4 linked regions of the Homo sapiens genome follow. The protein of the gene in region 4 purifies or fractionates together with the protein of the main gene of each other region. This does not show direct contact. Each region holds a gene or a part of one and is shown on either strand. Other genes may lie near its edges.

Region 1 (3,500 bases), on a different chromosome or scaffold from region 4:
TCAGCTGGGTGTGGTGGCATGCGCCTGGAATCCCAGCTACTCAAGAGGCTGAGGTGGGAGAATCATTTGAACCTGGAAGGCATAGGTTGCAGTGAGCCAAGATCACACCACTGCACTCTACCCTGGGCAACAGATGGAGATTCCATCTTCCACCTTCCAAAAAAAAAGGTGCAGAGTTTACTAATTTAAAACATTGATATTTCATATTTATTTAAATAAAAATGATTGAATTTATTTGAGTACAGGAAACAGTGACATTTCTGTAACAGTAAACAGTAACAGAAGTAAACAGCATCCACAAACACATAAATAATGAACATTTAAAAATCACTTACTACTGTTTCCTTGGCAGGAGGCGGCTTGATCTGTTGACTGGGAATCAGGACAAAAGTCAAAGTACCATGCATATCAGACTGTAATAGAAAGATCAGGTTATTTTTTAAATTTGCATTTATGAAAATCATTCCATGATTTTATGATCTATATTCCCTAAACTGGACTATTTCAGAACCCCTCCACAGACTTAAATGACCAGCAGCACTTTGCTCTACCAAAGCAATGAATGGGGCTGGATGAAAATAAGTGTGTGAAGATGTCTCTAGATTTTACAACAGAATCAGTAGATAGTACAGATTCCACTGTAATAACAGATGCTGAATAACTAGGACCATAAATCTAGTCTGTGCGTGTGTACAAAGTGATCATAAATTGCACTCAAAAGATGTCTAGAAATGATTTTCTGATTATACTAGCACTATCCAATAGAACTTTCTCCAATGATGGAAATGTGCTATTTCTGTATCTTAATAATGGTAGCCATTAGCTACATACTGCTTCTCAGCACTTGAAATGCAGCTAGTGCGAATAAGGAACTGAATTTTAAATTTTACTTAATTTAAACAGAAATAGCTATATGCAGCTAGTGATTATTATGCCGGACACTGCAGATCTATAGCACTGTTATTATCTAATATTATTAGGAAAACAACAATCAATTACAGATAATAAAATAAAAGAACACAAAAAATCATCAGGACACAGACTTTGTTTTGTTACTGTTTCCCAAGTGGCTAGTGCATATTAGGCACTCAATAAATATGTACTGAGTGAATTAATGAGTTATATTACTGATTCCAGAAAAATAAAATATATGTGATAGTGATACATCAGAAAGTAAAAAAATATCAGTGGTACCACCCAAAAATAAAACTGCTAACAAATACTGTGGAACAGTTACATCATGGAAAAATCAGGCTAGAAATCATCTAGTGCTCTTAACAGTTATTTTAAAAATATTTTATTCTAAAGTCTAATAAGAGCTTTCTAAAAGCTATCAATTATTCTTCTAGCTGCGTCAACTTACCAACAAGTCAAAAACCTCATTGACATCTTTCCCCCGAATTTCAATGCCATTAATCTCTAGAACTTCATCTCCTTCATGCAACAGACCACTTTTCTCTGCAGCACCCCCTTTTACTATCCGGCTAATGATGACAGAGTCCATTTCATTACGAACTGTAGCACCCTAAAAATATATATATGTATAATTTAAAAATAAAAATAATACAATTTTTGTTAAGCATTTATTTTTAAATTCTATTTTTTCCATTCAACAATACTAACCTTCAGTTATCTTAAGAAAAAATTTATTTACACAACTAGAGTAATTGTAATTAGATTTAAAAGTTGACCATTTCCCCCACACTTTCTGCTTCAGAAATACTCTATTCATTAGAATTCTGAAATTAACCAGACTTTTGAAGCACACAACAGCAGAAAAATGCACTTGTTTAAAAACAGTATGTGGGACACTTACCAACGGAATATCACGAGCCTTTTCTATACGAACTATTTTTACAGTTTCTCCTCCATACTGGCCAATACTTTCATAAACTCTCTCATCTGTAATGGGCTCTAGCTGCATTTCCTGCTCAGCAACCTTATCGTGGGCCAGTAAAAGTGCCTGTTTCAAAGAAATCCATGGCATTTTAAGTAACAGCATGATTTATTTCTGCAGAGTGATTTTTAACCTATGTACATAGTATTCTGACCATTAAATCTTTAAAAGTGTTATAATTAATTAGAGCTAATAATAAAGATGTGTTAAGTATACTAAGGGCATACTCTGGAATGGGTTATGAAAGTCTAAAATGCTTACTAAACTTCGGAAGATAACATCAATGTAAAGGTCTACACACCCTAGATAATTAAACTTACAGAAAATACAACCAAAGGGGGGAAGAATTTTTGCCTAATTTTTAAAGAAAAAGTTGTTTCAAAAATAATTTGGTTCATTTTAAATCTGAAAATATATAATCCAACAATAACTACTATGTTATAGATGGGGTTGTAAACATCAAAATAGGCTAGAGAATGTTTGACATCTCTTCCAGTACTGGAGTCTTTGATTTAAAAAAATAGAAGAATGCTGGAAAAACCACATATATAGTATTCTGTCCATTTTCTACCTGAATATGTGGAGTATTCAGCAAAGCAGTTAGTTCTTGTCCTTCCTTATGATGAACTGGCTTCAAAACAGTTTGTACCTAAGAAACAAAAATAAAGATTATTCTTCCTAGATTATAGGAAGTATCAGTAGCACCTGTATGCAGGGTCATATTTTTTAAGTACAAATTAAAATAATAAAAATACTTGTAAGAAATAAAATCACTAAAAAGAATTATTAGAGTTTTCAATCTTGTTATTATGGATAAAACAACAGTATTTCTTATTAAAAAAACACTAAATAATATTTTGGTACTTACGCCTATAGACAAAATACTTCCATCTTGAACGTTTCACCCAACATACCATAAAATTCATTAATAATAATTACATAAGAAAAGAAAAACTGTCCTAACAGTTACCTTGCTATTTTATAGTTTTTAAATCATTTATGTGACTATTTAAAATCAGAGATGACAACTTAAAGAGTTATAGTCAGGCTGGGTGCAGTGGCTCACACCTGTAATCCCAGCACTTTGAGAGGCTGAGGCAAGCGGATTGCTTAAGCCCAGGAGTTTGAGACCAGCCTGGGCAACACAGTGAGACCCTGTCTCTATTTTATAAATTTTTTTATATAATTAAAAAAAAAGACTGACAGTCTAACAAGATGAATTTATATGAGTGTAATGGAACAATCACCATAATATAATGGATTACATTAAATTTCCCACAGTCGAGAAATCTTTGTCTTCCTAGGATAAACTCCCCTTGGTTATAAATTTTTTTAGCCTGTTTCCTTATCTTTAGAATGGCACCTACTATTTATGGTGCTTCAAAGACTGATTAAGAAAATCTTAAAACAGGCCAGATACAATGGCTCACACCAGTAATCCCAGCACTTTGGGAAGCCAAAGCAGGCAGATCACTTGAGGTCAGGAGTTCGAGACCAGCCTGGCCAACATGGCAAAATACTGTCTCTACTAAAAATACAAAAATTAGCCAGGCGTGGTGGCGTGTGCCTGTAATTCCAGCTACTCAAGAGGCTGAGGCATGAG
Region 2 (2,892 bases), on a different chromosome or scaffold from region 4:
GCCTTTTGCCATATAAAGTTTAACATTCACAGGTTCTGGGGATTAGGATGTGGACATCTTTCAAGAGCCATTATTTAGCTTACCACAATATCTGTTAAGGTTTGAGTTGGCATGGGTACATTCCGTTTTCTACCTAAAGTCCAGGGTTAGTCTGTCCTGGACTGTCTCTAGCTTCCATATACAAACAGAACATGGATTTGATGATTTCTTCGGAATAGACCTAACTGTAGTGAATTCAGGTTTCTGCAGTCCTTACTCTGGCTGGCCACAAAGTTCAATGCTAGCTTTGGAGGAAACAGCTCTAGAAATGGTGGATACTTAGGAGAAGCTGCTCTTTACTGTGTTCTGCAGGTCATTCTTCTCCTGATAAAATGGTATTACAGACTTGTAGATAAAGTGCTATTGGTTTATACAGTAATTCTTATAATTACGCAACATGTGTTTGTTGAGCTCTTACATCAGTATTATACATGGGGCTGATGATATAAAATGAGTAAGACTCAGTCCCTGCCCTCAAGGAGTTTATACTCTATATAAGTTATCAGCAAAGAGATGCCCAGCATACCGTGGGCATACAAAGGAAATGTGTCTACCCAATCTTGCTGAGTCATGAAAAGGTTCCTACGGGAGTTACACTTGTGCTGAGTCTTGAAGGCCTGAGTAAGAATATGTTGTTACTTAGCAAGGACTGACATATGGCACTAGCTGGCTTTTGGGAACCTTGGTGAGAACCATTCCAGTGGAGTGGGGAGGAGGGTAGAATCTGGACCGCAGTAGACTGGCTGCTAGAGAAGTAAGTAAGTAGATAGGTATCTGGTGGGGCTAACCAGTCGCAGTAGGGGTTGGGGGAAGCCTGAAGCAAGCTTGCTGGAAAGATGGGAAGTGGTGGTTAGGGTGTGGGATGCTTTCAGTTGAGATTTCAGAGGTGGTAATGATAGAGGCAGGGCTACAACCATGACAGGAGTTGCTGAACTGAAGAGGAGCATGTTATTAAAGCTGAAGTTGAGGAACTGAGAGGTCCAGGTGTTAGATGGATCATTCACACAGATATCAAAGCCAAGCGAATGATGACAGAGGCAGTGATAGAAAGGAAGCCAGATCAGAAGATAAAATCATAAATAATTGAGTAGAGGTTGCTGAAAGGTGGGGAGGGAACAACACAGAGAAATGCCAAATGTGCCTTCTTATGATGTGAACTTAAAGGACGGGTTTTAAAATGTCCCTTAATAACAGGAAAGATACCTCATACTCTGACACTGATGGGGGGAAGGAAGAATGGGTATTATGGACTTTTGTACATTTTTGAAGTAATCCATATATGATGGTCTCAATTTTCATGATGAATTAGGAGGACAGGTTCTTAGAACAAGAGTTTCAGAGATAAGACCCTTGAAACAGCCACTGAGAGGAACTGGAGTAATAGCTCAACAAGGAGAAATAGAAGCATCAGCGGCTGTATTGAGGAACCACTGGAGATTGGGGCCACCACCCTCTTTGCCTTCTTAGTACACTGATAGCTAAATAATTGAGCTCCCCAAGGATTATACAATGCTGGCCATATAGTGGGTAATCAATAATTCCCTTAAAAATAATAGGCTTTAAAAATTAAATTAGTACATATTTGGTCATTGTAGAAAAGTTGAAAAATAAAGAAAACTCTAACAAGTTCCTATAAATAAAAATTTTCCATAATTCAATAACTCTGAGATAATCACTTTTTACATTTGATATATTTCCTTGCAGTATTTACATTTAATGTAGCTGTATTTGCATAAGTATATGTACATATATACACACACATATATACATATATACACACATATATAGACACACATACACACACACACACATACACACACACATATATATATATATTTTGAGACAGAGTTTTGCTCTGTCACCCACGCTGGAGTGCAGTGGCGTGATCTCGGCTCACTACAACCTCTGCCTCCTAGGTTCAAGCGATTCTCTTGCCTCAGCCTCCTGAGTAGCTGGGATTACAGGTACTGACTACTACGCCTGGCTAATTTTTGTATTTTTAGTAGAGACGGGGTTTCACCATGTTGTCCAGGCTGGTCTCAAACTCCTGACCTCAAGTGATCCACCCACCTCAGCCGCCCAAAGAGCATATATTTTTAAAACCAAATGTGGGGTGATAATAACTCCTTTTTATACAGTTTTTTCTAGAGTTGACATACCAAGACTTTTTTCCCTAAGATGATTGACAAGTATTCAGAAATACACAAGCCAGTAAGGCCACAACAATTTTAGAAGCTTCCAGTGCTAGCATAAAGTGGAGGGGACCACTTGGGTAGCATTTGGCTGCAGCTTTCTCATAGTTTTTTGTTTTTGTTCTTTAAAGATCTCTTAAGCTCATTAATAATGTGAAATATTCCCTTTCTAGGAATGCAAGAAACAACACCAGGAGGTCATATCAGTTTACAGAATGCATCTTCTGTATGCTGTGCAGGTATGGTTATGCCCCTTGAAGTATCTGGACATCCTAAAGAAATACGGCAGCAGATGTTGACAGAACTCCCATCATTTAACTAGGAGAATGAACAAGAATTAGAGGAGAATCCTTTTCACTGGAAAGCCTGAATATGCCTTTTGCATTGCTTTGGATTCTGTGTCAGGAGCCTTGTGCCCTGTTTACCAGGAACAGCCCCATCTTTTAAAGCAGGGCCTCACTCTGTCATGCAGGCTGGAGTGTAATGGCATAATCTCGCCTCACTGCAGCCTCGACCCACGGGCTCAAGTGATCCTCCCACCTTAGCCTCCCAAGTAGGTGGGATTACAGGTACCCACCACCGTACCTGGCAAATTTTTGTATTTTTGTAGAGATGGGGCTTTGCCATGTTGCCCAGGCTGGTCTCAAACTCCTGAGCTCAA
Region 3 (3,500 bases), on a different chromosome or scaffold from region 4:
ATCGCAGCTGAGGCCTGAACTCTGTGGCCCTGCGACCTTGCTCCGCAGCAAGACGGGCTCAGGATTGCAAAGCAAAGGGCCGCTTACCTGAAGTCCAGTCGGGGAGAGCGGGGCGGGGGCAGTGCAGACGGGTGTGACCCAGCTGTTCATGGCGGCGTCTAAACCTGCCCTCAAGCCTCTGGGGCTGCTGAAACCCAGTGAAGCAAGCCTGAGTCTGTAGCCCAGAGTAAAGCCCTTCACTTAGCTGGTTCCAGTGGAACTTTCTAGCCTAACTATCCTCCTTCCTCCACCCGATGCTCTCAAGCCCCACTGTTCCGTACCTGTCCCACACCTTGTCCTCATGGGATCCCTTCTCCATGGGGACTCTTGCCCCAGCCAGCTCTGTTTCAGGGCCTCCCTCTTGACCTCGGAAGCTGCCTCCCAGAAGCCTCCCAGACCCTGATGGCAGAGGCCCCCCAGCGATCTTTCTAGATTGGAGCCTTGGGCGGTGTCAGCCCACACTCTACAGACTGAGCCCTGTTGGCTTGCTCGGGGCCATCGTCCTCTTCCAGCCTCCTGGTCTTGGTGCCCCCTTCTTATCTGCGTTCCATCATGGTGCCCCCAATTTGCTTCCTGTGACTTCTTTCCCACCTGATGAATAGCCCAACCCCAAATTCCCATGAGCTTGTTTCTCTGCAGCCTTCCAGCTTGTTGTGACAGTTGTGTATGCTGGTGTCGAGGCGGGCAGCCCTTCCGGCCAAGTCCTCAGAACATGGTGGGAAGTGTCCCTCGCTGGGAGCTCCGAGGACGAGGCCTGGCCTACGGCCCTGTCCCCAGTGCTGAGGTGCTTATGGAGTGGAGGAGTCTCTGAGACTGGGGACCCATAGTTTCCAGAGTTTTGACTGGTACCTTTCTTTTAATGGCCTGTGTGCCCACCCCATGCCTTTGGGCGAGGGTAAACTACTTCCTTTCGTAGGCCGTGCCCCTGGGGACAGCTCTGCAGCTGCAGGTTTTCTCTCTCTGCATGGTACGTTCTTTCAGGCCGGGGTCAGCACTACGCAGCGTCACTTGCCTGCTCAGGTAGGCTGTGCTGGAGGCCTCAGTCTCTGCGGAGTGACCACCTGCCCCGTGCTCATAAGCTAAAGGAAGCCTGCTCTTTCTGGCTCGGATGTGCTTGGCCAGCCTGAACTGATTCCAGCAGACAGTGGGCAGAGTTCTGATCTCTGCTCCCCTGGCCAGAGCTAAAAGATGTCCCATTCCTTATTAGCTGTCCCTCTAATCCCTGCATCCCCAGCTCATCCACCTGGGTCCCTAGCAGCTTGTCCCAAACCCTGATCTGCCGACACCTGGACATGGGTGAGAAGGGTCTTGGCCCTGTTGCTTCCTGAGCTGCAGCTTACCGGCATTTCCGGCCCTGTGGGACCGGCTCAGACACCGACCCTGTTTGTTTTGTTCTCTGGCTACTTTCAGGGGACAACAGATGCTTCCTGTTCTCCATCTGCCCCAGCATGGCTGTGTACACACACACGGGCTACAACGACCACTACATGTACTTGAACCATGGACAGCAGACGATCCCGAACGGACTGGTGAGCCCGGGCAGAGCGTGGTGGTCTTGCCTTGGTGATGTCCCCCAGCAAAGGTGTCAACCCCGAGGCTCAGCTCCACAGATCAGGGCAGGGCGCGTGGCATTCAGTTCCTCACGCACGCCATGTCCAGTTCCTTCTGTTTCCAGGGCCGGTGCTGGGGGCAGTGACAGCTGGGCCAGGGTTTCCCTTAGAGAAGGATGTGGCCTCTGCTGGGGCTTCTCAGTGGTTTGTGTGCAGATGGCACACTTGGCCCATTTTTCTGGCCCTCAGATGATTGGTTTGTAGCCTTTGTGGCTAGGGATGGTGTCAGCGCCAGACCTGTCCCTGCGCGTCGCTGGCCTGCCTCATACGTGGGAGTGCTGGACCAAGGGGAATGGACGGCCGGCAGCTCATGAGACAGCATGTGGGGCCCCAGTTGGGGTGACCGTGGCTCCTGTCCAGCCCTCGCTTCAGCTTGGTGACATGGCACAGGAAGCAGGGGGAAGCGGGGGAGGCCTAGGCCGGGTGCAGGGAGTGGGTGGGCACGGGTCCAGGCAGGCCCGAGGGCAGGAGTTGGGGCAGCATCCACGCCGAAGCTCAGCTTGCTCCTGCCAGCTCCCCTGCTGATTTCTTTCCTCTGCTGCTTGACAGAAAGCTCTTTTCTTTTCTTTTTTTTCTTTTTGAGATGGAGTCCACTCTTGTCCAGGCTGGAGTGCAGTGGCGCGATCTCGGCTCACTGCAAGCTCCGCCTCCCAGGTTCACGCCATTCTCCTGCCTCAGCCTCCCAAGTAGCTGGGACCACAGGCACCCGCTATCACGCCTGGCTAATTTTTTTGTATTTTTAGTAGAGACGGGGTTTCACCATGTTAGCCAGGATGGTCTCCATCTCCTGACCTCGTGATCCACCCGCCTTGGCCTCCTAAAGTGCTGGGATTACAGGCGTGAGCCACTGCGCCCAGCTGACAGAAAGCTCTTATTGGGAAAATCCAGCCCTGTTTCTGCAGAGCTGAGGGCAGAGAAGGCTGGTCCGATATAGGGACCAGCGTCCTTCCCAGGCTTACCACACTGCTGCCCTGGAGAGAGGGAGGGGCGTGGCCAGGCCACCTAGAACACCTGGCACCTTCTGGAAAGGGCGGTCTGGTGGCGGCAGGAGTGAGGGTGCCAGCCTCACAGGCAGCACCCGGCAGGCCCCGGTCATCGCTCGTCATTGGCCCTGAGAGAGCGGCTCCGCGTGTCAACTCTGGGCAGTGTGCTCGGGTCTCTGGTTGCCCAAGGTCAGAACTAGGGCGTGCCAGGTGTTACAGGCCTACCAGGGACCAGAGGAGGTTCTCTGCAGGGTGAGATTGAACAGCTCAGAGCCCAGCCATGTGACTGAGGGTGGAAGGCACAGGGGTTCGCATCCGCCTCCGGGTCTGCCTCCGCATCCTGTAAGCCACACACTCGGAGCTGAGTTTCCCAGCCTGTCTTGGGGTGAGGATCGCTGCCCGGAAGCGGGGCACTGGGGCCCCAACACAGGGGGTTTGCAGTGTCAGCTTCTGTGTTCACCTCTCCCCTTATCTTAACTGGGCGGGGCCCTGGGCCCTGGAGGTCTCTTTCTCTATATATATTTAACATTTTTAATTCTCTGATGTCACTTGTGCTTTCAGCCAGCAAATCTTCTTGAGAAAGAGCCATGGGGTGGGTGTCTGGAGACATAGATGACTGTTCTAGTAACTTGGCATGGGATGCTTAAATGGCAGTAATTGATATATTTCACAGTTAAGGAAAACAAGATGATGGCATTCACCACTCACCCGCCCCTGTCTCAGGCTGGTACTTAAGGCGAGAGGCTGGCTTGTGGTATTTGATGTCCACAGACCCTGAGGAGTTGCTGATGCTATTCTCTGTCCTGGCTTCCTTTGCAGGGTATGGGGGGGCAGCACAATTACTTTGGGCTTTGGGTGGATGTTGATT
Region 4 (3,967 bases):
ATCCTCACTACAAGTAAGTCCTAACATTTTCTAATAGTTAATATGACACTTTTACAGTCAGCCATGACACCCTTGTAGTTTATTATAACTGTTAGTTGGTAACCCGAAGTTTTAAAGAGAAATTTGATTATGGTTATCTTTTTCTTTTCGCAAGATAGTTTAATTTTTAAAATATGTGAGGGGAGAACAAATGCTTTTAAGGATTTCTACCTATGTTGTGTGCTTGTTCTGTGGACAGTAAAAATACAACCTATTCAAATCTCAGTTAAGAGATTTTACAATTGGCAAATTAGATTAAACTGTTGGCAGGAAGCTGCCAGCTTAGACTTGTATAGCATTCCTGCCATTTTATTTTTCTTAGAAGGAATATTGATGGTTTCTTGATAGTCTCTTGCAAAATTTCACACAAGTATAGTTCTCCTTTATATTAATGAATAATCTGTTGTAAAAGAAAACCACTAATTGGAGCCAGATTTATGTTTTTGGCATTGTCTCAATTGCCCTAATATTAACTTCTCTAAAGGTGCATAAAGTATTTAATATTTTGCCTAAAAGTGTAGATCTAACTCCTCCTGAAGTCTGTATCTTGCTGTCAGCCCTCACAATTTGTGTGGTCAGAAGAGCTGTTGGCATGTATGTCATCTCAGCTGCAGTGGCTCCAGGATGCTAGAATTTAAAACCGTACCTTTGAATCACTCACTATACTATTAAATCACTTCTCTTTATTCAACTCTAATCTGACAGGTTCTTGAAATGGTACAGAAATCATAATCACTGATTTTTTTCCTAAGTCATTTTTTAACCAAAAAATTACTCTTACCTTTTGAAAAAAATTACAAATGTATAATCTGTTCATGTCAAGGAAGTGCATTATTTTTCTCACTATTTCTTATATTCCCCACCTCTTGCAAACACACACACTGCAATATATATACACCATACACACATGCACACACACACCCCAAATTTATTGTCTGGATGTAGAAGCTCACTACCCAATTAACACTTTTTTTCCCTTACAAGCTGAAACTAGCAGTAATTTATGGCACCGCATTGTGCTGCTGCTTCTCCATGGGGGGAGCTGAGAGCATTTCTCTTCAGTACAGAGCAATCCCCACAGGTGTCAGCTGAGAGCCACCAAGCTAGGGTATCCCACTTCAAGTTCCTCCCAGATGAAATTGATGACTGGTTCTCTCTCTTTCAACACACACACACACACACACACACACACACACACACAGTGTGGGTGTGCGCACATACACACTGCCCACTAGCAAAAGGAAATAAAAATCTCAGTTGCTTATTTATTATGGCTGATACATTCCACACCATCAGCAATCACCAGTCATATCTTGTCTTCTCCTATATCAAACCCGAGGAAAGAGGCTCGTCAAATCATCTGAAATAGCATATTATTCAGTATACTTTCATATTTTAAGTGGACTCAGGAATCTGCTAAATTTTCAGTCATTTGCAAAATAAATCTGGAATATCATGATCAAGAGTAGTGCTTTGAACCCTTTCTCAAGCTCATGTGTTAGAAAACCTTTTTTTTTTTCTTGTGTGTGTAACTCTGTTGGAGCCAATTATTGTATTAATTAATGTTACATTGATCACATAACCTTTTTTCTCCCGTCCCTCCTGCCCTCCTCCACTAATGCACACCTTGACAATTTTAAGGGATGGTGGAAGAGAGAAAAACCGTAGAGCAATATATATGTACATATAGATATATATACATTCTTATCACAGGGAGGTTAACTGGTTTTCCCAGTTCTTGGAGGAAGCTCATTGTATGTGAGCGAGTATCTGTATTTATATGGAGAAAAGAGGATTCTCTCTAGGTGCCAGAAAGACCTGGCCAGTTCACAAATTAGAGGATGAAATAAAGGGATCTGAAAAACATCCTTACTGCAGCCAAAAGAAGAAGCGCTCTAATTCAAAAGCAGACTAACAGCATCATTAATCTTTTCTTTCATTTCTAGAATCAAATTCATCCCAAGTCACTAGGAGGATCAATACAGTACGCTCATCGGCTGCAGTTGCATATTTTAATGTTTCTGATATCACACACACATACACACCTACACCTTTCCATGCACCCTTCAATATATATATATATCTTCATAAAGAACATGAAATCTCTGAGAGAAATTTTAGAAGTGCTTATTATTTCACCCCTGGCTTTTGCAAAGTCTCTCAATACCAATGCACAGCCAAAATTCTCTCTGGCTTTCCCGCCCAGTCTCTAAGCTCCATCTCTAATACCAGTGCAGTTTCTTGGAGCTCGGGGTCTACTGCACAAATTAACGATGGGCACAGTGTGGGGCTGATGAGGTAGGGAAGGAAATATATGGAGAGATATTTTATTGCTTTGATATCTAGCCTGTCTCTTATTTTCTTTCTTTTGCTAATACATCACTGCATTCAGCCTTTAAGTTACTACCCCAGTTCCACCATCTCTTCTTGCCATCTATTTAAAAGGCTTCATGCAAAACAACCAAGATCTACACTCCTCCACCCTCCCACCACCCATCTTTCCCTGTGTATTTGTGGCAGATCCTGGCTCAGTTACAATGGGGAAAGATATCCTTCTTCAGCTTGCCTCGCCCCATCCCCTCCCCCCAACCCAAATTGAGCTTCTTTACCTGCCCGGTTATTCCCCTCAGCTCGAGCCAGAGCCTGAAGCATGCATCGGTCAAAGCGAATTTCCTGAGGTCTATGGATAAGGCGACTGCTGCTGCCTTTTCAGAGGCGTCAGGCTTGAGCGTCTATCTCCAGGAGTGCGGGAGGGGAGAACAGGCAACGGAGGGGAGCAGGAGGAGGAGGAGGAGGAGAAGGAGGAGGAGGGGGAGGAGAGGGAAAGAGCTGGGAAGGAAAAGGCGGTGGTGGAGCCTGAGAAGGCTGGGTTACGTGACGCCGGGTGCTGTCCTTCTGAAAGAGAAGGGCGGAGCTGAGCTCTCCGCAGTACCATGGAGAGCGGCGGGCCCGTCCTTTGGCTGGGGAATGGGTGGGCTCGGCCCGTGGTCGCAGCCCCTCCAGGTCTGGATGCTGCGGAGCGAGGTGCTTTTACCTTTGCATCGTCCCCTTGCAGGGGGAGCCTGATCCTGGGGGCGGGGACCTTCCGCAAGCGCTTCTAACTTGTCACCACCCTCTCTTCCCCATCGGAAAGAAAGAAAGAGAGAGAGAGAGAGAGAGAGAGAGAGAGAGAGAGAGAGAGAACGAACGAACACGAACCAGAGAACCACGTAGCCTACTGAGCATGCCCAGGCCCCTGCTAGACCCATGGAAAGCTGTATGGAGATTCCACTTCTCCGGGGTTTGGTAGTGATTGGGCGGGGATACCTGAGAGGGTGCCAGGAAAGGGTCCAGCAGTCAAAGAGAAGGGGCCAAGGAGTCGATAATTATGATGAGCTCTGGCTTTACTTGTGCACCTTGGTCTCCTGCTCGGAACCCTTGAAAAGAAGCTGCAGCTTTTCGAGGAATGCAGGGGCAAGCAAGACTCACACAGGCACTGGCATTCTTCTAGATCCGATGTCCCTTGCCCCACCCCTTACTGTGGCTCTGCCTTGGGTAATCACAACAAATCTTCATGACTTGCCTAGGCTGTGCCAAAAAGATGTAAAAGGAACCCACCAGGGTAAGATGCCAACTTGCAGACGACGATCAACTGTGTCTGACAAGGTGCTTTTTACTGCAGCCTGTCGTCATTCTCCAGCCTTCTGTGCTCTGTCTTGAACCAAGTTTTCTACCTGTTTAACTCTTCCCTCCGTCTCCTCCTCCCTTTTGCAGCTGGTAAAACCTGGTGAAAGTAAAACTGGGTGTGAGGCTCTAACCATGCAACTGGGCATGCCCAATAGGCATTGCTGGGTTTGGTGAGAAAGGGGTTAAATCTAAGGGAGCTTACAGATTAGGTGGTAGAGGAGTTCGGGGTCTGTGGCTTTAAATTATGGTTTGCACCCTATGG

Evidence for each region. Proteins that work in one complex are often made in the same cells at the same time.
Region 1: the proteins of NRXN1 (region 4) and PALS1 purify together in Homo sapiens (affinity purification with mass spectrometry, with the first as the bait; one large-scale study listed by BioGRID). This does not show direct contact.
Region 2: the proteins of NRXN1 (region 4) and RAI14 purify together in Homo sapiens (affinity purification with mass spectrometry, with the first as the bait; one large-scale study listed by BioGRID). This does not show direct contact.
Region 3: the proteins of NRXN1 (region 4) and MEAK7 purify together in Homo sapiens (affinity purification with mass spectrometry, with the first as the bait; one large-scale study listed by BioGRID). This does not show direct contact.

Annotation. Positions count from the first base shown.
Region 1 is NC_000014.9:67,300,435-67,303,934, reverse strand, and holds part of PALS1 (protein PALS1), read right to left. Parts: intron 2,547-3,500; coding exon 2,469-2,546; intron 1,964-2,468; coding exon 1,817-1,963; intron 1,526-1,816; coding exon 1,364-1,525; intron 414-1,363; coding exon 336-413; intron 1-335. UniProt on the Homo sapiens protein: Plays a role in tight junction biogenesis and in the establishment of cell polarity in epithelial cells.
Region 2 is NC_000005.10:34,827,328-34,830,219, forward strand, and holds part of RAI14 (ankycorbin), read left to right. Parts: intron 1-2,404; coding exon 2,405-2,470; intron 2,471-2,892. UniProt on the Homo sapiens protein: Plays a role in actin regulation at the ectoplasmic specialization, a type of cell junction specific to testis. Important for establishment of sperm polarity and normal spermatid adhesion.
Region 3 is NC_000016.10:84,480,660-84,484,159, reverse strand, and holds part of MEAK7 (MTOR-associated protein MEAK7), read left to right. Parts: intron 1-1,449; coding exon 1,450-1,568; intron 1,569-3,451; coding exon 3,452-3,500. UniProt on the Homo sapiens protein: Activates an alternative mTOR signaling through RPS6KB2 activation and EIF4EBP1 repression to regulate cell proliferation and migration. Recruits MTOR at the lysosome, essential for MTOR signaling at the lysosome.
Region 4 is NC_000002.12:51,029,333-51,033,299, forward strand, and holds the start of NRXN1 (neurexin-1 isoform alpha4 precursor), read right to left. Parts: upstream 2,801-3,967; 5' UTR 2,649-2,800; intron 1-2,648.